Regions from separate parts of the Homo sapiens genome. Here all the other regions are linked to region 1. The links come from fine-mapping of genetic effects on gene expression. A gene starts in region 1. Each other region holds a variant in brackets. All regions are shown on one strand. Distances are between the middles of the regions. Region 1 holds the start of SORBS3 (sorbin and SH3 domain containing 3). Region 2 holds the start of PDLIM2 (PDZ and LIM domain 2). Region 3 overlaps SORBS3 (sorbin and SH3 domain containing 3). Region 4 overlaps PPP3CC (protein phosphatase 3 catalytic subunit gamma).

Evidence for each region. PIP is the estimated chance that this variant, and not a neighbour inherited with it, causes the effect. A credible set is the group of variants that fine-mapping cannot tell apart.
Region 2: its variant is the best candidate, but not a certain one, in a credible set for the expression of SORBS3 in breast (GTEx, PIP 0.80).
Region 3: its variant is the best candidate, but not a certain one, in a credible set for the expression of SORBS3 in adrenal gland (GTEx, PIP 0.80).
Region 4: its variant is the best candidate, but not a certain one, in a credible set for the expression of SORBS3 in whole blood (TOPMed, PIP 0.88).

Annotation. Positions count from the first base shown.
Region 1 is chr8:22,548,906-22,554,401 of GRCh38, reverse strand. It overlaps SORBS3 (sorbin and SH3 domain containing 3), which reads right to left and starts at 2,475. Exons shown (of 21, transcript NM_005775.5): 1 at 2,380-2,475. It overlaps LOC124901905 (a long non-coding RNA gene), which reads left to right and starts at 277. Exons shown (of 2, transcript XR_007060851.1): 1 at 277-2,240. RefSeq lists enhancers at 376-455, 569-1,444, 1,588-1,637, 1,445-2,322, 2,546-3,510 and 1 more and silencers at 2,308-2,387, 2,538-2,717, 3,028-3,157.
Region 2 is chr8:22,579,242-22,583,989 of GRCh38, reverse strand. It overlaps PDLIM2 (PDZ and LIM domain 2), which reads right to left and starts at 3,515. Exons shown (of 9, transcript NM_001368120.1): 1 at 3,293-3,515; 2 at 2,460-2,611. The coding sequence starts at 3,385. RefSeq lists silencers at 1,620-1,914, 3,479-3,568, 4,299-4,458, 4,469-4,558, 4,659-4,728 and an enhancer at 1,589-2,281. The variant G/C (reference allele first, on the strand shown) is at 2,644.
Region 3 is chr8:22,571,132-22,576,627 of GRCh38, reverse strand. It overlaps SORBS3 (sorbin and SH3 domain containing 3), which reads right to left. Exons shown (of 21, transcript NM_005775.5): 18 at 5,407-5,496; 19 at 4,807-4,910; 20 at 4,182-4,288; 21 at 840-1,961. The coding sequence ends at 1,900. Among named protein-coding and RNA genes, the nearest start is that of PDLIM2, 6.6 kb to the left of the region's middle. RefSeq lists a silencer at 2,043-2,192 and enhancers at 1,582-2,300, 3,366-4,056, 4,057-4,748. The variant G/C (reference allele first, on the strand shown) is at 2,553.
Region 4 is chr8:22,484,960-22,490,455 of GRCh38, reverse strand. All of the region lies in intron 3 of PPP3CC (protein phosphatase 3 catalytic subunit gamma), which reads right to left. All of the region lies in intron 1 of LOC124901905 (a long non-coding RNA gene), which reads left to right. Among named protein-coding and RNA genes, the nearest start is that of PPP3CC, 47 kb to the right of the region's middle. The variant C/T (reference allele first, on the strand shown) is at 2,970.

The sequences.
Region 1 (5,496 bases):
TGCCCTCTTGGCTCGACCCTGGGATAGGGGAGGAGGGGCCGGCTGTGGGAGGGGGTCAGGACCAGCTGGGTACTAGCTCAAGGACCCAGGAAACAGGCCACGCCAGGCACCCGCCTGCAGGCTGCCCGTGCCTGCCGGCTCCCAGGGGCACAATGGACCACTTGTTAGGCCCAGGGCAGGAGCTCCGGGTGGGAGTGGGGGAGGGGGAGCTTGGGTGAGGAGGAGGGGAGGGGCTGGCCAGGAGCCCGTGGGGCTCTCCCTGCACGGGTGCAGCTGGCTTCCCCACTCCCCCGGAGGGAAGGCGCAGGGGAAGTGGGGCAGCCGGCAGAGAGGGGGCCTGGGAACACAGGACTTTGTTTCAGTTCCCTCTGCCTCCCCCAGGCCGTGTGGGCATCTCTTGCCTGCGGGCACAAGGGATTACTCAGCCACCCGCCCACTGCCCTCCAGGAAGCAGTCAGCAGGGCCTTAAGCCCAATAGGGCCAAGGGGAGCGTCGGGGGCATTTCCAGGCAGCAAGACCCACTCTTGCGAGCTCACAGGGAGCATCGGGCCCTTCTTTGGCCTCCTTCACAGAATGAGGACTCAGAGGGCTCCGGGTGGGTGGAGACAGAAGCGGTGGGTGAGGGCAGAGCTGAACCTGCTCATGCCCATGGAGAGTTGGTGCTGAGTGCCCTGGGGTGTTCTGCATGTGGGCAAATGTGCACGCACATACACGCGCTCCCTGGCTCCACTTTCTCCCGCCCCTCCAGGCTGTTTTGTGAGTGCAGGGTCTTCCCTGGCAGCACCATGCCTGCCCACAGCCAGCTTCTTCTGCCTCATCCCAAGGCTGGGGAAGGGGAAGGGAGCCCTAGGCACCCAGGGAATGGAGGGGCAAGAGGGGAGCCCAGAGTGGGGGTGCAAGAGGACAAAAAGGGGCTCCCAGTTTGGGGTGTCCAAGGGGGCTTTTTGACCCAGAGCACGGTGCTACGGCGTCCATCCCTCCGCGTCTTGGCTGCTGGACTGGACCAGAAACAGCCAAGCTCTGCCACTGCCCAGGACTGGATGGAATCAGGTTTGCCTGTGCCTGTGGGGTCCTTGGGGGCTCTCAGGGAGGGCTGCAAATGCATCGGGAGGAGCTGTGTGTATGTGTGTGTTGGAATCTGGGTGCAGAGCTGCGAATATGACTTCTGGGGGGACCACCGGAGGGACCACATGAGCTGCATGGGGGTTGTGGGTACAGAGGGGTGTCAGCTGAACAGTGGTGGGAGGTGCAGTCATGTGAGCAGTGGAAGAGTTGGGGGCCCAGAGGGGATGAAGGTAGAATAAGGCTGGGATGACTCAGCCCCTGGACCCAGCTCCTGCCCAGGGCTAGCGAGGGTGTAGCCAAGGCTGGGGGCAGCTCCTTGTCTCTGGTTTGAGTTTGTGGGGACTCCTGACATTTGAGTTGCTGCGACACAGCTCTTCTGTGCCCATGCCTGACTGGGGGGAGTGGAGGGCTGAGGCTGGAGGAGGAGCAGCTCCCCAGCTGGGTCCAATTAGGACTCCCACCAAAGCAAAACAGGCAGACACACCCCAGTCCCCACACTCCACCTCCCCTTGCGGGGGGGAGTTGAGGCAGGGTGGGGTGGAAGGTCAGGAGACCTGGAGCTGGTCGGCTCCTCGCAGCACCCCTCCCTGCCCAGCTGACTGCTTCGGGCCAAATTGCAGCTCAGCAGCTGCCGCCTGGGCCATCAGCTGACAGCGCCTTCCTTCCCTGACCTCCCCGCCCACCTCGTGCTCGGTGAGAACTGCTCTCTTGGAGGATGGGTAGGGCAGGAGGTCCCCCACGACCCGTAGTCAGAGGTTGCTTACCCTTGGTGCCCCCATCTGCCCCTTCTCAACCCTGCCCCTTGTGTCGCCCCCCACCACAGGAACCTCCAGGGAAGGGTGGTCCGAGTCCTTCTCTTGGCAGCCAGGTCAGGAGACTTAGGGAGGACTTACAAGGAAGAGGGCAGCATCTGGGGACTGGTCCCCCATGTAGCAGAGAGCGGAGGGGTCCTCCCAGAATTCAGACCTCCCCTCCAGGCAGGCAGCCAGCCCCGGGAGCGGGGAGAGGCCCCTGGAGCGGGAGAGGGGAGGCGGCTCTGCTGGGGTGGGCACTGGCCTCCCTGCTCTGAACACTGCCCTGACCTTGGGTGCCTGGCCCTAAGAGCTTTCCCAGGTATTTCTCAGCGACAAGGCCACGTGGACAAGGACAGCTTTTCTTGAATTTCGCTTTTTCTGGTATGAGGGCTGGTGGGAGGTACTTCCCAGAGTTTGGGACGCGGACCCCGGGGAGGGGCTAGGTGCGATTCCCTGGGGTTGGGCACGGATCCCTCCCGCCGGCCTCGCCTACTCCCCGCCCCTCCTTGCCCGGACCTACCTTCCCCGGCGAGCAGGTGGCTGGGCCCGAGGCCGCCCGGGAGCGCAGGAGCATCCCTGCCCGGCTGCTGCCTGGCGCGGGCGCTCGAGGAGGAAGGGCAAGGAGAAGCGCGGGCCGTCGCGGCCCTCGTGACCGGGTCAGGACGGGCCGGGCCGGGCCGGGCGCCGGCGCAGGAAGAGGGAGGCCGAAGGGGCGCGCGCCGGAGGCCGGACCGTGAGAGTCGCGCGGCGGGGCGGGCGGAGTTTGGGTCTCGGATCTGGACTGCGGGCCGGGGCTGGGCCGGAGAGGAGGGACGTGCGAGTGCTCTCCGTCCGTCGGGGCGCGCGCGGGGACACTGGTGGCCCCCTGCCGAGGAGGCCTGGCCGGCGGGGAGGCGGCGCCGGGAGGGGCCGCCGAGGGTCCCCGGGGAGCCCTCTCTGGTTTCCCAGCTGCCATCCCGGCCCCTACCGCAGGGCTGGCGTCGGGGAGGGGTCGGGCGGCCCGACACGGGCCACTCAGAGTTTCCAGCGACATTTCCAGAGTGTGGGAAGCGAGCGGCCTCGCAGCGGAGCCAGGACAGGGGCAGGAGCGATGAACCGGGCGGAGCCAGGACAAGGGGGCAGGAGTGGTGAACTGGGCAAGCCGGGAGAGACGGACAGGCCGGGAGCGAGATGAGGGCGCCCCGCAGGCAGAGTGGCGGAGCGGACCAGGGGAAGGCCCCGCCGCCCCTCCGCGCTGGGGGAGAGGGTGTGCCTGCGGCGGCGCGCGGCCGGTCGTGTGCAAACAAACACGCGCGCGTACACTGCAAACGTGGGGACGCTCACACACGTGCAAGCACAGGGAGGAAATCAGCCCAAGGGAGCGGCCCCCCCGGGCGTGCCGCGCCCCTAAAGAGGATAAGGGTGGGGTCCCTTTGGCGGGGATGGGATTAGGAGGGTCTTGGTGTTCCCAGACACTGTGTTTGTTTTGATCTGCCTGCTTTTCCGCTGTTCTCGCTGCTCTGAGCTGGGTCCCCAGAGCCCCGGCCCTTCCGGCTCCCCATCCATTCTGGTCATCCCCTCTCCCTGTCTCTGCCCCAAGCCTCTGTATGGCACTTCAGAAAGTGGGAATGCTTAAGGAACATTGAAGGACCGTGGAAACACTCTGGAATCCTTTCTGGCCCTTGAGTTGGCTCAGGGATCCCCAAGCCCCAAACCAGCCAACCAACCAACAGTTACTGATCAACTTTAGCTACGAGCTGGGAGTGATCAATGCTAAATTATGAAAACTAACGTAATCTCCTGCATTCCTACTGGGTGTCAGACTGGTGCCAGAGGCCACGAGGAGTTTTGGAGTGTTTTCCAAGCTCACCACTCAACTCAAAGTTTGGAAAGAAAGAGAGTAGAGAAAAGACTAAGTGATTTTCAGTCCCTACCACCATTACTGCTTTAGTCTTATCTTCTCCCTCGTTCTGGTAAAGAAGCTCTCCCCGTTGCCTTGAAACATCACATGTGAAAGCTGGAGGAGATGTTTGGGTTGAGAAGCTTCAGATAGGCCTGCTGGCCTCTAGCGCCTGCGGGGCTGCCATGTGGACACACAGCTGCACCAGCAGCAGTGGGACCACTGGGGGACACGTCATAGGGAAGCAGGTCCAAGGCTTCCCAGGACAAATTTTTACATGATTCCAGGGGTTCTGAGTCTGCCAGTTGTGGGGCATCTATGTAAAGGCAACTGTTGCACTGAGCGGGGAGCTGAACAAGATGACCTTGAAGACTCCTTCCAAGAACCTCTGACTCTCCAGGAAGGCGGAGAGATGGGGATGGCAGGGGCATTGCTGTGGAGGACAGCTGAGCAGTGGGGGAACCCTGGGACACTTCTTGAGGGACGCAGCAGTGCACTGCCCCCCAACCTGAAGCTTAGAAACCTTCTTATCCACGCCAGGTAGCCTCTTCCCTCCCTCAGGGATAAAATAGGTGCCCATTTTCTTAGACACGCATTTTTCCCACCTGTCAGGGTCCTTGGGACTAAGAAGGACCACATCGCTTTCACTTTCTTCCTTCTTCTCCCAAGATGGTGAAGCTGAAGCTCTTCCGACTCCAGGAATCCTGGCCATACCCCCTCACCAGCAGCAAGCTTCTCTTATTCTCTAGGGCTCTGACCTGGACTCCAAGATAAATATTTAGTGTAGAGGGTGCAGCAGAGCTGACAAAGTTCCCCACTTCCTGTTTCTCACAAAGGGAGGTGGCAGCCATGGGTAAGGAGCTGGGGACTGGCTACCAGTTTCATCTCTATGGGAATCGGGCGTTGAGTAAACAGCTTTGCAGGAGGAGGCGGGGTAGGTCTACGGGAGACCTGAGCTTTCTTCCTGAGCCGCTTTGACTTCTGCCTGTCTACTTAGGCCTGGGCTCTGCCGGGTTTATCACCTCTCTCAGGTCAGAATCCACCATGTTCCGTGGTGCCCATCTGGCCTCACAGCCGAGAGGATGGGAGACAGTGGGCCACAGGGCAGGGAAAACATAAGGAAATTTGACTGATTCCTCCCTTTCTGCCCTTATCTAAAGAGAAGAATTCCTTCTCTTTGAAAAGTAGATTAAGGGGGGAAAAGTAGCAGGGTTTGGAGATTGAGCCAGGAACCAGGTGTCTGATTTCCCGACGCCTCCCTCTAGCGTCAGCTCCCCTTGCTGCCTCCACAGCTGGCACGGTTAGGGAGAGGCTGAGGCTGGGAAGATTGTCCTAGATAAGGCGGCTGGCCGGCTGGCTGTCAACAACAGAACAGATTCCTTTCCTTTCCAAATCCCACTGCACTCTCTCCTTTGCATGCACGACTCCCCTGTCTAAGAGGGGCCTCCCTCCCTGCAAGTCGCGGCTTCCCCACCTCTGGCACTGCCCTTTGTCAGGGGCTGCCTCTGCCTTCTCAGAGCCACCTGAGCCACAGTAAACACAGTTACATAACTGCCCTGTTTTCCCAGCTACCTGATCCCAGGCATCAGTATTCCCCGCTCAAGCCCTTGAGGCTGCACCTTTTGTTCTGTGGGTAGTCCCCAACATCACCGTCAACAGGGGTCTGTCCACAACCCCCACCCCCCTGCAGGGGAGGATTAGCCACGGGACTACCAGTAAATGTGGCTCTTCACAGGGAGGGGGAGAAGGCGGTGGAAT
Region 2 (4,748 bases), 30 kb before region 1:
CAAAAAAAGAAAGGATAGTTTGGTTCTAAAAAGTAGAACGTACATAACTTCATCAGAAAGTTCAAACATTCAGTTTTATTAGAGAGTCCTCACATTATCCTGCCCTTTTTTTTTTTTTTTTTTTTTTTTTTTTTTCTATTTTGCCTGGACTTTGTCACTGATATCACTCAGCCTCGGGTTTGTAGATTGATTTGGGGGAAGATTACTGATTTTTTTGTTTTTTGAGATGGAGTCTCGCTCTGTCACCCAGGCTGGAGCGCAGTGGTGCAATCTCGGCTCACTGCAACCTCCACCTCCTGGGTTCAAGCAATTCTCCCTGCCTCAGCCCCCCAGGTAGCTGGGACTACAGGTGCCCACTAGCATGCCCGGCTAATTTTTGTATTTTCAGTAGAGACGGGGTTTCGCCGTATTGGCCAGGCTGGTCTTGAACTCCTGACCTCAGGTGATCCGCCCGACTCGGCCTCCCAAAATGCTGAAATTACAGGTGTGAGCCACTGCGCCCGGCCTGATTACTGATTTCATAGAAATAATCCTTTATATTTTAACCCATGGAGAAACTGAAACCCAGAGAGGGAAAGTGAGCTGCCTCAAGTTCTAGAGCCCACGGTGACTGGGCCAGCTGTGCACCCTGCCCACTGGAGGCCAGGGTGCCTTTGAGCGCGTCACTCCTGATCCCTTTCTCAGGGGTCTCCCCAGTTAAACAAAGGGCGAGACCCGCCTGCCTCCTTCCAGACAAGTAGGCCCAGCTCCCCACCAGCGAGAGGGGCACGCCCTCCCAGCTCCCTGGGTACCCTCTTCCAAAGTGGAACCCAGCTGGAGCCCTGAATGGGAGGTAACTGAAGTCTGGGCTGAGGGACAGCCTGCCTCGTCCCATCTTGCCACACATTCCTGGCCGTGAGGCTGCCTCTAGAGATGTAGGGCAACAGGACCCTCCGCTTCCTGGGAGAGCCATGGGATCAGGGTGAGGAGAGCTCAGTCTCTGGCTCCAGCCTGGAGCCCTGCTTCCTGCCCCAGGGCTTCTGAATACCAGAGAGGTCACCTGGGAGGGTAGGAGGCGGGAGATGGGGGCGGGGGGGGGGGTGGGCATCACGTCAGCAAAAGTAAGGAGACTGGGCCGGGCGCGGTGTAATACCTGTAATCCCAGCACTTTGGGAGGCTGAGGCAAGTGGATCACGAGGTCAGGAGATCGAGACCATCCTGGCCAACGTGGTGAAACCCCATCTCTACTAAAAATACAAAAATTAGCTGGGCGTGGTGGCACGCGCCTGTAGTCCCAGGTACTCAGGAGGCTGAGTCAGGAGACTCTCTTGAACCCGGGAGGCAGAGGTGGCAGTGAGCCGAGATCACGCTACTGCACTCCAGCCTGGCAACAGAGCGAGACTCTGTCTCAAAAAAAAAAAAAAAAAAAAAATTAAGAGACTGGAGTCTGGGCTTGCCTGGTGCAGAACCAGAGGCCTGACTTACAGCCCAGGCCTACCTCCCCCGAGCCCTGGTCCCTCCAGAGAACCCCAGAGGAAGAGACAGTCCGAGGCTCCTGCCCTTCCGCTGCCAGACCCTCAGCCTCCTGTAGCTTTCTGCCCCATTCCCAGATGCCATGAGGTGCTCTCTACCCTCCTTCTTGGGGTCCCGCTCCTGCAAACACCCAGGGACCTGAATGACATGAAGGGAGCCGGCTTCTGCCACACCACAGGGCAGGGCAGTTGGAGAAGGAGGGGCTTGGTAGGGCTGAAGAGAGCAGGACAATGTGGGGGTGGCCAGGATGCAAGAGGTGTCTGACTCAGGTTCTAGGCCCGTGCAGAGGGCTCTCCTGGCTCGGGGATCTCCTGGCATTCCCGATCTGTGACTCACTGCAATGCCCCACCCCAGGGAGCCACCTGTTCCCCCTATAGCTTGGCCTCCAGGCCCCACCCTGGCCCCACCTTGGCTTATAGGCTCAAAACCCTAGGAGTAACCCAGGATCGGGCATCTGCCTTCAGTGATGGGGAGGAACAGACAGCCTCTATGAGGAATGAGCCCCCCAAGTCCTCACTTCCAGCTGGGAACTAAACAAAGGCCATGCCCTGTTGGAAGCAGGAGTCCTGGGGATGCAGCCTCGGGCATACCTTTCCCAGAAGGTTCCCCTCTTCAACCCACTTCATGCCCACGCCCTGTGCCCTGCACACTCTTGGGAACCAGTCAAACCCGGGCTTCAAGGTGGCTGGTGCCAGCTCGCCCTGCCCAGCCTGTGACTGCACGCCCAGCCTGGCGCCCACCTTTACCCAACCAGGCATGGGAACACCCCTCAGCCCACCCTGCTGCAGGAAGCAGAGCCCAGGACCTTCTCACCAAGGTGTGGAGAGGGCCCAAGAAGGCCGCTTTAGGGCTGAGCTCTAGCCCATGGGCAGGAGCAAGGGCTGCTCAATACGTGGGGTGGTGGAGGAGGGGGAATGCCACAGGCTCTGCAGAGCGGGAGGCCCTACCGGTCCAGCTGCAGCCGCAGGGGCGAGGGGCTCTGGCGGATCTTGCTCTGGGCCTCGGCATGCAGCATGCCCTCCGCGCTTTCCCCGTTGATGGCCACGATTATGTCTCCAGGCCGGAGGTCAGCGTCCTTGGCTTTGCCCCGCTCGGCCACCTGTAGGGATGAGGAGCTGGCATGCTCAGACC[G/C]TGGCCCAGCTGGAGAAGGGACTTCCCACTCTGCTACCCAAGAAACACAGAGGCTGGCTTGACCCAGGCCGGCCTGCACCCTCCTGCATGTCCCTCTGCCTGCTCATGACACCCAGCTGATCAGCCATCCCCTCCAGGAGCGCAGGTGGCAGCCCCCACCCCACACTGGCATTCTAATGGGCCTCCCAAAGAATGTGCAGTGGCAGAATTTCAGGAACTGTGCTTGGAAATACTTTTGGATAGAGAGCCTTGCCCGTGCAAATCGCACCTTGCAGGTGGCTGCCTGCACAGCCCTCCTGTGAATGTTCCCAGCCTGGGCCCAGGTCAAGAGGAGACTGCCAAGAACTCCGGGGCTCTTGTTCTAGTAATCACCCCAAATGGCTGCCTGCAAGTGTGGGGATAGCAACTGGGGAGGCAAGAGCCGGCCCTGTCCTGGTCCCAGCTCCCTTTCACTCCCAAGGTCTGTTCCTGAAGTGGCCACCACATCCCCGTGGCAAAGGGCCACGGCTCCCTTACAGCCAGCACGCCAGGCAGCAGCAGATCCCTAGCTCCAGAACAGAAAAAGCAAGCCATCTGTGCAGAGTGGGGTGAACAGGGCCGACCTCGCTTCTGGCAGGACCTTCTCATCTCTTTGAGCCACCATCCTTACCTTAGTCACCATGATGGGCGTGTGGAAATCCCTGCCCCCTGTGATACGGAAGCCCCAGGGCGCTGGCCCGGCCACATCCACCGTCAACGCCATACCTGAGGAAGAGAGGACCAGGAGGTGAAGTCCATGCCCCTAGCCGGCTCTGGGGGCACTGTAAGGCAGCAGGAGAGGAGCCAAAGGGAGAAGGAGAGGGCACCACAGCTCCCGGAGCAGCTACTCAGGGGCTTTGGGGTGGGTAGAGGAAGTGGCTAACTCCCTCCCTCAGCCCGGTTTCACTTCCCCCCACCCTGGGAAGCCATGCTTCTGGGTTCTCCCTTCCTTAGTCTTCAGCCCAGGGAGCGACTCCCAGGAGGGGGCTGCCCAGGCTGCCAGGCAGGGGGCTTGCTGGAGCATGGGGGGCAGGGGCTGGCAAGTGGAGGGGATGCCAGCACCCCCTCAGTCTCCCCTCCTCCACCATCAGGGCTCAGTCCCACTAGCGCTTGCTTCCTGTCCCCAAAACCCACAGCACACGGTACTTCCTCTCCACTCTGGGGGAGGGCTGGTGAGTGGCCTAGGGAGAGCAGGGCTCAGGAAGCAGGAGTGACGGGTCAAGGAACAGGCTGGCACCAGTACAGACTGTGTAAGTCACTGGCCAGGTGAAGGACTGGTGGGGTGAGGCCGAGTCTTCACATGGGCCTCCTAGCTGCCCACCTCGTTCTTGGCAAAGTGGATCACACGGGCAAGACCGGGCTCCCCACCTCCCCCAGGGGCCGGCTGCCAGGGCAAGGAGGCCAGGGTTCATCTGTCAAGCTGGACACACCCACCCCCAGATTCCTGATGCTGCCCGACAGACAGCCGGGGTGACAGGCCTCCCATCCACAGCCCCTCCGCTGGGCAAGGAAGTGCCCTTGCAGACAGACCCCTGTGGGATTTCCTGAGCCTCTAGCTCTGGAGCCAGGAGCCAATCCAGGCAGGAAGCCGCGGTGCCAGGCTGGGCACCACCCTGCCCAGCACCCATCCTGGGGCTGCCCTGGGGACGCAAGTGCTGCGAGAATCTATCAAGAGCACCAGCGGTCTGTCCGCTCCATCCCCGGCTGCCTTCCCCTTGGGCCCAGGCCTAGCCTCTGTTCCCAGCACCGCCCCCACCCCAGTCCCCGAGGCCGGCTCGCGGCCGCCCCGAGATTCCCAGACCTTTGAGCCGGTCAGTGGACTCCGCGCTGCGGGCGCCGCGGGGAGGTGCCCAGCCCGATGGCCCGGCTCTACCAGTTCTGGAGCCTCCTTCGCTCCGAGGGCAAAGTACCCTGCGGGCTGGGGGCTGGAGGAGGAGCGCTCCGGCCGGGGAGAGCGCAGCTCGCGGGGGCGCCCCCGCTGATGCGAGGCTCCAGGGAGCTGGGCCGCGGACGAGGCCAGGGTTCCGCGCCGACAGGGGCGCGGAGAGGAGCCCGGCGCCGGGGAGGGCGGGCCGCGCGGAGAGGCG
Region 3 (5,496 bases), 22 kb before region 1:
TGAGGTGGACCTGACTTCAGCATTTAATAATGATGTGAGCTAGACAACTTAATTTCTCAGAGGCTGGGTCTCTCCCCCTGTAAAATGGAATCATGACCTGCCATCGTGAGGCTCATGTTAGGTAACACACGGAGAGGCCCTGGTGCCCTGCTCACCTCTCAGCAGCAGCCGAGAAACGGAGCTTCCTTTCTTGGCAGAGTGGCCATGCCTGGACTGTGCCACCACTGCCACCCCACAGGGACCTGCAAGCTCCAGGACTATAAAACCTTGTTCAAGGTTGGGCGCGGTGGCTCACGCTTGTTATCCCAGCACTTTGGGAGGCCGAGGTGGGTGGATCACCTGAGGTCAGGAGTTCGAGACCAGCCTGGCCAACATGTGAAACCCCATCTCTACTAAAAATACAAAAATTAGCTGGGCATGGTGCCGCAACCCTGTAATCCCAGCTACTCAGGAGGCTGAGGTGGGAAAATTGCTTGAAGCCGGGAGGCAGAGACTGCAGTGAGCCGAGATCGGGCCACTGCGCTCCAGCCTGGGCGAAAGAATGAGACCCCATCTCACACAGAAAAAAAACAACAAAAAACAAACAAACAAACAAAACACCCTTGTTCAAGAGGAGTTTTGGCTGGCTGTGCTTGACCACTCCCAGCTTCCCGCAAAGGATTGCTCAAAAGCCTGAGCCCAAAGAGGAGAATAAACACACACACACACACACACACACACACACAAGGGCTTCGGTGTGGAAACAGAGCACACAGAAGGAAAACAGCAGAATAGTTAGAAATGTCATCTAGCCCAGCAACCCCACGGTGGCAGCTCCAGAATCAAAACAGTCTGCAAACAAGGCCACATTCAGTCCCCCATCTCTGGTGTCTCCCTGCTACCAGGGCCTGGCACTGTTCATTCTCCCAGCACTTCTTGCCACACAGCTGCCCAATTGTGGGGGCTGCCGCAACCTGCCTGACACCCAAGGGCAGAGATCTTTGGAGGTAATAATGGTGTTTTTCCATCCTCCTCCTCTTACACACACACCTGTCCCACCTGTCTCCCAGCACAGCCCTCCACAGAAGGAATTCCCATCTCCTAGACAGGAGGAGGCATCCCCTACCCCAAGGAAAAGGCCGCAGAGACAAGGTCCCTTGTGTCCAGGTTTATTTTACATTCTCTTCCAGAGGGGATGTGGGGCTGGGGGAGAGCCAGCAGGCAGGCGGGCAGCACACAGCAGTCTCCCTGGGGAATATTTGAGCCAGGCTAGTGGTGCCTGGCCCCACAGTGCGGGGTGATATGCCAGGGCCAGGGCCAGGACTTGGCAGCCCCTGGGAAGAGGAGGCCTTGGGGCCAGAGCTCTTGCCAGGCCTAGATCGCTAAGAAGGTGCTGCGTCTGTCCCCCGCCTTGCTCCGCCCCCCCACACCCAGCTGGAGGCCAGAAGGCAAAGAGGGCAGCCAGCAAGCTGGGGTGCTGGGAGGAACCCCAGCAGGCGGGGGCGGCCTTTGGTCTCTACGAGGCTAGGAAGCTGGTTCTGGTTAGAGGAACCCCGTGGGGGCAAAGCGGAGAGCTGGTCCCTGTTAGAGGAAACGCTGGAGCAGGATGGGGGTGGGGGACTTGGGGTCTGGTCTCAATAAGGCCTGGAAATGGTCTCCGCTTCAAAGCAGACCTCTGTATTTGGGGAGTGGGGTGGGGAGGAAATGAAAGGGCTGTGGGAGGAATGCCTGTGAGTCGTGGGTGGGAATCAGTCCAGGGGGCTTCGAGGGGGGTCCGAGGGAAAGGCTGCGGGGGTCGTCTGCAGATGCTGGGAGCTCAGGTCCTGGGGAAGGAGGATGTGGGCGGGGGTCCTCTCCCTCCCACGAGTGCCACCGCTCCCCACCCCATCCTGGCTGGCTCCAAGTTGCCATGGAGACCACTCACACCGGGGCAACGTAATTTCCAGGGAACGTTCCGAATTTCTGGGTCCTCCGGGAGACACCTGAAAGAGGAAAGGCAGGAAGAGCTTTCCCCACTCCCTTCTTTAACAGGGATGCAGGGGTGAGGGCCTGCCCCCTGCCGGCAGTGCCCAGAACTGTAGGGGAGTTCTGTAGGGGAGCCCAGAGAGGGAATTGGATTTGCTCTCCTCCTTCCTGCCCCCTAGCGGCAGAAGCTTAGATGGGCAAAGCTACACTTCCCACACTCAACCACCAAAGAATCTGAGCAATCAACAAATGTGCATCACACTGTACACAGCAGAGTCACTCCCCCCCTCCTCCGCAAAGTGGGGACACAGGAGGAGGAATCACAGAACTGAAATCGGGAGAAACGTCCCTGGTCTAATAGGGCACCCTCACTTAGAGATGGGTGGGAAGGCCTATGGGAAGGCTGAATGCATTGCCCGAGAGCACCCCGACGCTTAGGAGTAAGCTTGGGACTCCGATCCAGGCCTCTCAGCCCCACAGAAACTCGTGTCTTGAAGAGGAGGAGGGGGGGGAACCCCAGCGGGCAAAGCATCTGGGGGGCCTGGCACCCGATGCTTCCCCAAAGCCAGCACTTCTGTTGGCTGCTTTCCTTCGTGCCATGAAGAGAA[G/C]GACGCCCTGGAGGAAACTGGCACCACCCCAGGGTCACTGATGGAGTCACTGGGGACCCAGGCCGGGGTTGCCGACCTTCAGAGCCCTGCCCCTTTTCCCTGCACACCCCTGCCTCTGGAGCAGCCCTTGGGGAGAGCGCCTGGTGGAAAGGACCAGGGCTCACACCTGTGTATCCCCACACCCCCCAGCTGGTTCCTCCAGCCTGGGAGGAAGAGGGAATGGAGAAATATAGAAATACAGAAATGTAATAAATATTATTATATTCCTATATATAGAAAAATAGGAATATAAACTGAAATGAACGTCACTCCTGACCTTGGGTGAATGGATGATCCTGGGCCTCCCCTTCCAGGCTGGCACCCTGACTTCCTTGGGGGCAGCCCGTGCTCGTCCCACCCCCACCCTCGTCCTCTGCCCCGAGTACCTCCCTTTCCTCTTGGCCTCCCCAAATCCTTCCCCTGCCCTTCCAGGCCCAGCTCCCTCATTTCCTCCAGGAAGCCTTCCCTGACCTGCACTAACTAAAATGGGCACCACTCGCCACCTGTGGCTGTTGGGCACTTGAGATGTGCCTGTGCAACTGAGGAACTGGATTTTTAATTTATTTCATTTGAGCTACATTTCAACAGCTGAATGCCGCCGGTGGCTGCCATACCGGAAAGGGCACAGGTCTCGCCCATTCCTCTCAAAGCGCTTGTGGCTCCTAATACAAAAGTGGTACTTTTTCTTCTTGTCTGCATAGGTTTGCAAAACTTTATTAGTAGTTGTAAAAAAATTCCAAAGCAAAAGTGTATCCAGTAAATTTGAATGCATCTCCAAGCACCGCCTCCCTCCCTCCCCCACTAGAAGGTAGGGGCCATTCACAGGCTAGTGCTTAATGGTCCTGGGTGGGTCAGTACAGCTGGCTGGCAGCTGTACTGGGATCAGATCAGGAAGGGTGGGCTGCCAGGTCAAGGGGCTGCCCAAGCAGCCCCCCAACTCCTCAGGCTTCAAAGCCTGCTTGGGGCAGGGCAGGGGGCTTCTGGCCACTCTCTTCTCTCTGGGGACGGCCCATCCTTTGAAGATGAGACCTGCACAGGGCCCGCCCACTCTGGGGAAAGAGGCCATGTGAAGCCTGGTGGGTTGGTCACCTTGATTCAGGCTGAGGCCAACCTGAGGCTTCCTGCATTTGTCCTTGGTCAGAGCTGCCCTTGGGCCAGCCCTGAGGGGCTGGGACCTTTCTCCATTCCCTCTTCCTCCCAGGCTGGAGGAGCCAGCTAGGTCAAGTGTGAGCCCTGGTCCTTTCCACCAGGAGCTCTCCCCCAGGGCTGCTCGAGGCAGGGGTGTGCAGGAGGAAGAGGCAGAGCTCTGGACGTTGGGAACCCTGGCCTGGGTCCCCACTGACTCCATCAGTGACCCTGGACTGGTGCCAGTTTCCTCCTGGGCCTTGGCCTCTTCATGAAGGAAGGCAGCCAACAGAAGGGCTGGCTTTGGGGAAGCATCGGGTGCCAGGCCCCCCCAGTAGCCCGGCCGGAAGCTGAGTCGGGGGGTGGTCGGCCATGAATCTTTGCTGAAGCAGCACTGGCAGGCAACAGCACCCCACCCACATCCCCTGGGGCCCTGAGATGCCCCCTCCCGGCCTGCCCACATACCCACAAACCAGCCATCGTCACACTGCTGCATGACATCCACCCTGTCCCCCTCGCGCAGCTCCAGCTCGTCTTCGTTCTGGGGCCTGTACTGGTACATCGCCCGGTACCTGCGAGAAGCGTATCATGGCAACCAGAGAATGGGCCCAGAGGCTCTAACCCAAGTGTTGCCGCTTCCTGTGAATGCCCCAGGGTCCCTTCATGCTCTCACTAGCCCCTGATCCAGCTCCTCAGAGCAACTCAGCCTGTGCTCACCGTAGTCTTTCCCAGGCCTGCCTCCTGCCCTCTGGGCCCTAAGCACTGAACCCTCGCCTCCTCTGAGCACCTGGTGCCTTCCTGTCCATTCCACCAGTTCCACACTTCAATTATACATGCACCGACCTCAGGGCTAGAAACCCAATGAGGAGACCAAGGCCACAAGGCCACATAGCTGCCAGGAGGGATTGGGAACATCACAGACCAGCGCCTCCTCCCTGCCCCAAATCACCATAAGCTCTTCGAGGACAAGGGCTACCTGGTAGAAGTTTCCCAAATCCACAGGTGGGGACTTGGGGGAGGGTGGAATATGGGGCATTGCCTGCCAGTGACCCCCCCCACGTCTGATCAAGAGCCCTCAGATGGTACTCACGGGGTCCAGTGTATCTGAGAGGTGTTAGGAGAGGAGGTCCCCAGGTCCAGGGGATGGCTGGGACCTCGAGAGTGGGACAGAGCTGGACCAGGGGTGCCAAGATTCTGGGAGTTGACAGGAAGAAAGGGATGTCAGAGGGAGGAAGACGATGGGTACATGTAAGCCTGAGGGAGGAGGCCCAAAATGGGCGTTCCCAGTCCACCTGCCAGCACGCCTTACAAACGGCTTCATCTTAGCCTCCAAACCCCCAGGGCACAGGGACACCTGCTGTGACTATTTCATTTCACAGGGGCCAGAAAACTGAGGCCCAAGTAAGGTCAGTGCCTGGGTTTCTGGACGCCAGCATGGATGAACCAAGAACACCCAGGGTCAGGAGCCTGGGCCGGCTTTGGGATTCCATCTAGAGCTCCCTCGGCTAGAGCTCGGTAGGTTGAGGTCCCCCAGGCCAGGGTGGGGCTGCCATACTAGCTTCTGCCCTGTCACCCCACTCCTATGTCCCAGGGCTGTCTGGGAAGGAGTCCCAAGTGTGGACAAGTCACGGGGGTGGGGGATGAGGGGTGAGGAGGAGGTCGACTCTCTGGTGGAGGCAGGCTACCTCACCTGGGTCTGGGGTCTAGGCTCCTGGGTGGGGAAGGAGAAGCCAGTGCGACGGGGGGAGGTCTGTCCCCCCAAGTCGATGGGGTCAGCTGG
Region 4 (5,496 bases), 64 kb after region 1:
TAAATATAAAAAAAGTGGTAAGTGAAAAAAGTCAACAGTATAAATAGCACTACAACAGTGGTTCTCAAAGTATGGTCACATTCATCTCAAAGTGTGGTAAACAGCATCACCTGGGAACCCGACAGAATACAGATTGCCAGGTTCCACCCCACGCCTGATGAGTCAGAAACAGGGTCAGGGTCCTGCAACCTCTGTTTGCACAAGCTTTCCAGGTAATAATGGTGTATGTTAACATTTCAAGACCACTGGACAGCACCATATCATTTATGTAAAATTAAAATATTTTATCTGTAAAAGCTCTATACATTAAAAAATTAATATATTAGATGTATTGGCTCAGCACGGCAGCTCACGCCTATAATCCCAGCACTTTGGGAGGCCAAGGTGGGTAGATCACGAGGTCAGGAGATCCAGACCACCCTGGCTAACATGGTGAAACCTCGTCTCTACTAAAAATACAAAAAAAAATTGCTGGGCGTGGTAGCATGCGCCTCTAATCCCAGTTACTGGAGAGGCTGAGGCAGGAGAATTGCTTGAACCTGGGAGGCAGAGGTTGCAGTGAGCTGAGATCGTGCCACTGCACTCCAGCCTGGGAGACAGAGCAAGACTCCATCTCAAATTAGTGAATATATATATATTTATTTGTTATGTATGTATATAATATATACTTACTATATATATAATATAAAATATATACTTATATATAATATATACTTATTATATATATAATATATAATATATACTTATATATAATATATAATATATACTTATATATAATATATACTTATATATAATATATACTTATTGTATATTATATGTAATATATACTTATTATATATTATATATTATATACACTATTATATATAATATATATTTGTTATATATATATATGCTGTACCTCTCACTAGAAAATACAGTAAAGGACTTTGCTTGTGCATCTCCATGTTAGATCCCTAGAATCTAACACAGGCACTGTTGACAATCTGAGAATCATTCATTCATATATACATTAGATGTATTCTGAATCATATATTAAATACAGTAGAAGCATGTGTATACTGGGGAGAGGGAGTAAGGAACTCAGAGATCACAGATAAGCACAAAAAGAATAAAACAAAAAAGAGGGACTTTGCAAAGACTGATGAGAAATGTGCCATGACCTGAGGAGCTCGATCAATTCAACTGAGACTTTCCCACCTCCTCAAAAAGGAAAGACTTTGAAATCCTGAATCCAAATGTTTCTCAGTATGCCTAATCTAATTACTGACATCTCTTACCTATATTACTAGATTAAATCCTCACTGGTCTCCCTGCACCTGCTTTTGGGCTCCAAAAGTCAACTGACCTTCTAACAGCCAAAGTAATTGTTTTAAAACATAAATGTGAATACGTCACTCCCCTGCTCAAAAAAAAAAAATTCCTCCAATAACTTCCTAGCACATTCAGAATAAAACCCAAATGCACTGACATGGTTTACTAGGCCTGACATCATCTATCTGCCCCACTCTCTGCACCTCTTCCATCTCTCCCTTACTCATTATTCTGTCTAGCCTCGATAGCCTCACTACTATACATGGACTGCCCTAGACTTGCTTCTGCCTGTAAGCTTTTACACTGGTTGTGCCTCTGCCTGGAATGTAGTTCCCCTGATCTATGCACAGCTTGTTCCCACAGGTCATTCTGTTCAACAATTGCCTCTTCAAAAGAACCTGCCCTGATCACTCCATCTAAGTTAGCTGCTCCTGTCCCGCTTTAGCTCCTTCCTCTGATTTGGTTCTCATGGATGGTAAACAAATACATGATGCTGTCCCTCTCACTAGAAAATACAGTAAAGGACTTTGCTTGTGCATCTCCCTGTTAGATCCCCAGAATCTAACACAGGCACTGTTGACAATCTGAGAATCATTCATTCTTTGTTGTTTAGGTGTCTCCTACACATTGCAGGGTATTTTGTATCCCTGAAGCCTGTTTATCAAATGCCAAAAGAAACTTTCAATCATTGTGACAAACAATTCAAACATCATTGTACGTAATTATGAGTGCATCTAAAGCATAGGTTCTGAAAAATGGAATTGTTGCATTAAAGCATATACACATTTTGAAACAGGCATTGCAAAATAATCATAAAGCTTAAACATGTAGACACATATAAATAACCTTGTGTGGCTTTATTCTTTTGAGGGGTTAAATTTCATTACCAAGATAACAATTTTCACAAAATATTCCAAGGAAAAATTATATTAAATCAATATACAAATTTAGAATGCACTTCTCTTTTCTATACCTACCTTTCCCAACCAAGAACACAATATATCTTTTGATTTATCTGGGTATACATTTGTGCCTTCTAACTCACCTTTTTGAGGTAACGAGATATATAAAGGCACAATCCACCCATAGTATAATGTCATTTGGTGATGTGCTTCTTGGCCTCTAATTTCAAGTTTTATTTCCTTATTTTATACATCAGGATGCAACTGTACAATTGTCTTGTATAATTCAATTACAAGGTCATGATTATCAAGAGATCTGTTCAACCACTCAATTACTTTTTACTTCTGTGTGAACAGAATTTTTACTCTGCCTCCAGAATCATTTCTATGTGTCAATACCTGTTCATCAATTGGTCATCTAATAACATTTATATCACCTGCTCATCTGATAACATTTTTCTCTTTGGCAGCTTCTGTGCTTTTAATACAGTATATCTTTGCTGAAAATGTTCCCTTTAATCTTTTCTTTTCTCACAAAATCAATTAAAGAAACTAAAATTTAGCTTCTTCTCTCACAGAGGAAGAGGAAGCACTTTGTTTTTATTTTTTTTTTCTCTTTAGACAGAGTCTCACTCAGTCACCTAGGCCAGAATGCAGTGGCATAATCTAGGCTCACTGCAACCTCTGCCACCAGGGTTCACACAATTCTCCTGCCTCAGCCTCCTGAGTGGCTGGGACTACAAGCACACGCCACCA[C/T]GCCTGGTTAATTTGTTGTATTTTTAGTAGAGACAGGGTTTTACCATGTCATCCAGGCTGGTCTCGAACTCCTGACCTCAGGTGACCCACCCTCCTTGGCCTCCCAAAGTGCTAGGATTACCGGTGTGAGCCAGGGCGCCCAGCCAGCATTTTGTAATAGGTACAAATGAAGAGGGAACACCAAAAGTCTCAAAGATAAATAAAACTTTACTATTTTGTTTTATCAGCGGCAGAAGTCTTAAAAATGTTCTACTCTTTGATCAGTTACTTCATGTGTGAGAATCTGATCTAAGTATCTGAAATGCCATCACAGATATATTCAAAAAGATGTTAACTTTAGCAATGTGCAGAGTGGAAATAATTGGAAGACAACTTTGTACCATTTAAATACAAGTGATATCAAATCCAATTTGCTGTTGTGTAAGATATTTAAATACCTCATAAAACACAAAGTCTGGGCTGGGCGCGGTGGCTCATGCCTGTAATCCCAGCACTTTGGGTGGCTGAGGCAGGCAGATCTCCTGAGGTCAGGAGTTTGAGACTAGCCTGGCCAACATGGTGAAACCCCATCTCTACTAAAAATACAAAAATTAGCCAGGCGTGGTGGTGGGTGCCTGTAATCCCAGCTACTCGGGAGGGTGAGGCAGGAGGATCACTTAAACCTGGGAGGCAGAGGCTGCAGTGAGCCGAGATGGTGCCACTGTACTCCAGCCTGGGCAACAGAGTGAGACTCCGTCCCAAAAAAAAAAAAAAACAAAACAAAAAACACATCAAGTCTGGAGATGAGATGTCCAGGTTTGGTGTACTAGTTCAACATCTTCACCAAGAAACCAAGCCCTCTGTACCTCTGTGATCAGCGATTCACAGGTCTGCTTTTCCTCCTTAGTCATGTCACCTCCTCATAGTCACAGCATGGCTGCTACAGTACACACATCCACATATGAAGTGAAATGGTAGAATGGGGGTCCAAAAGCTTCAACCTTGCAATAGTCTTTTCATCAAGAAAGAGTGTTTCCAAAAGCAAACAAACAAACAAAAACCCAGCAGAGTTCCCTTTATATATTACTGGTTAAAAGAAAATCCAGTGTTTACCCCTAGACCAATCATTAGTGACAGGAAATTGATTGGCTTGAGTAGTTCAGACCACCCAGAATTCATTCCCTGGGGCTGGGATAAGGGCCTTCCTTCCCTGAGATCAAAGCTTCTCCCTGCAACCCCAATCCCATCTATCTGAATAAAATAGAGATATTGTTTGTAAGGAAGACAGAGGGAAAATGTATGCAATAGCATGACCTGCTATAAACCTATTTTTCCAACAGTAGAGGAATGGTGAAATAAATTAAGGTATTTATATCATTAACTACTGTGAAAGTTGATCATATGAACTGGGTTATTCCTGTCATACCCAACTAAAACAGAGTCAAGAGGGCGGGGGGGAAGCACTCAGGACATATAACATTGACCCAAAAATGTAATTCTCTGCAAGCATGTCTGCCGAAACTGCCTGCTATTACTGGAAACCAGTTTTATCTAATGGCTACTGAAATGATCTGCTGAAATTCTAAGGCTAATTTTACCCACTGCCATCACTCACCAATCAAAACTGGCAAGCTCTCCAGAACCTTACTAGTGCCAATGAACTTTCTCAAAGAGCAACACATAACATTTCGCTTTTTCATAAAACCTCTAACCTTCTCTTTGTTCTTCGGACATACCATTCTGTCTGCATGCATGCTCTAAATTGCAATTCTTTCTTCACAAATAAAACATCTTAATTTCAGAGATTCATCTCTGTGTTTCATTTGACTTTGACATACTTGGTCAAGTATGAGTCTAAGGCTGACTCATCTCAGAGAAGATCAGCAGCCATTGGAACTATAGTACAAGGTAGCCACACTGGGGACCTCTGAAAGTCACCCCCTCCTCTAACGGCTTCTGCAAGTTGCCTCTTTTTCCCTTAGTGAGTCATTCTTGGACTGAACTCCCGATTTTGGTTGAGTTCTGTTTTATCTGGGATTTGGATGGGATGGTGTCTTTCCCCTTCCCGTCTGATCTGGCTGAGGGATCTCCTATTAAGGAAGACTCTTTTCCTCCTTGTAGACCCTGGCTGTGGGGTCTCAGGGAAGGGATTTTTCCCTTTGGGTTGAGGCCTTGGGATCTCTCTTTTTTCTTTCAGTTGGAGAAGGCTTCTTATCGTCCTTCTTGGTAAGTGGGTACTTTATTTTCCCATCTGTGCTTGCGTTTATTTGGCCTTTGCAAATTCAGTGCTTATATTTAATTGGTTTTTGTGTATTTGGGATTAAACCAGAGCACCCACAATAAAATGGGCTCTCAAAATTCAAAGGCATGCCAAGATATTTTCTGGGATTCCAGCCGGTAACATGTTCAAACATCGTAAGGATCATTCAAACAGTCTGTTGTTCCTTAAACTAAAAGACCACAGTTAGAAAATAATATACTCCAAATAAGATATGCGTATCTCATTGATATTTTGAGGCTAAAAAAAAGGATTCAGGACTCAAAGAAT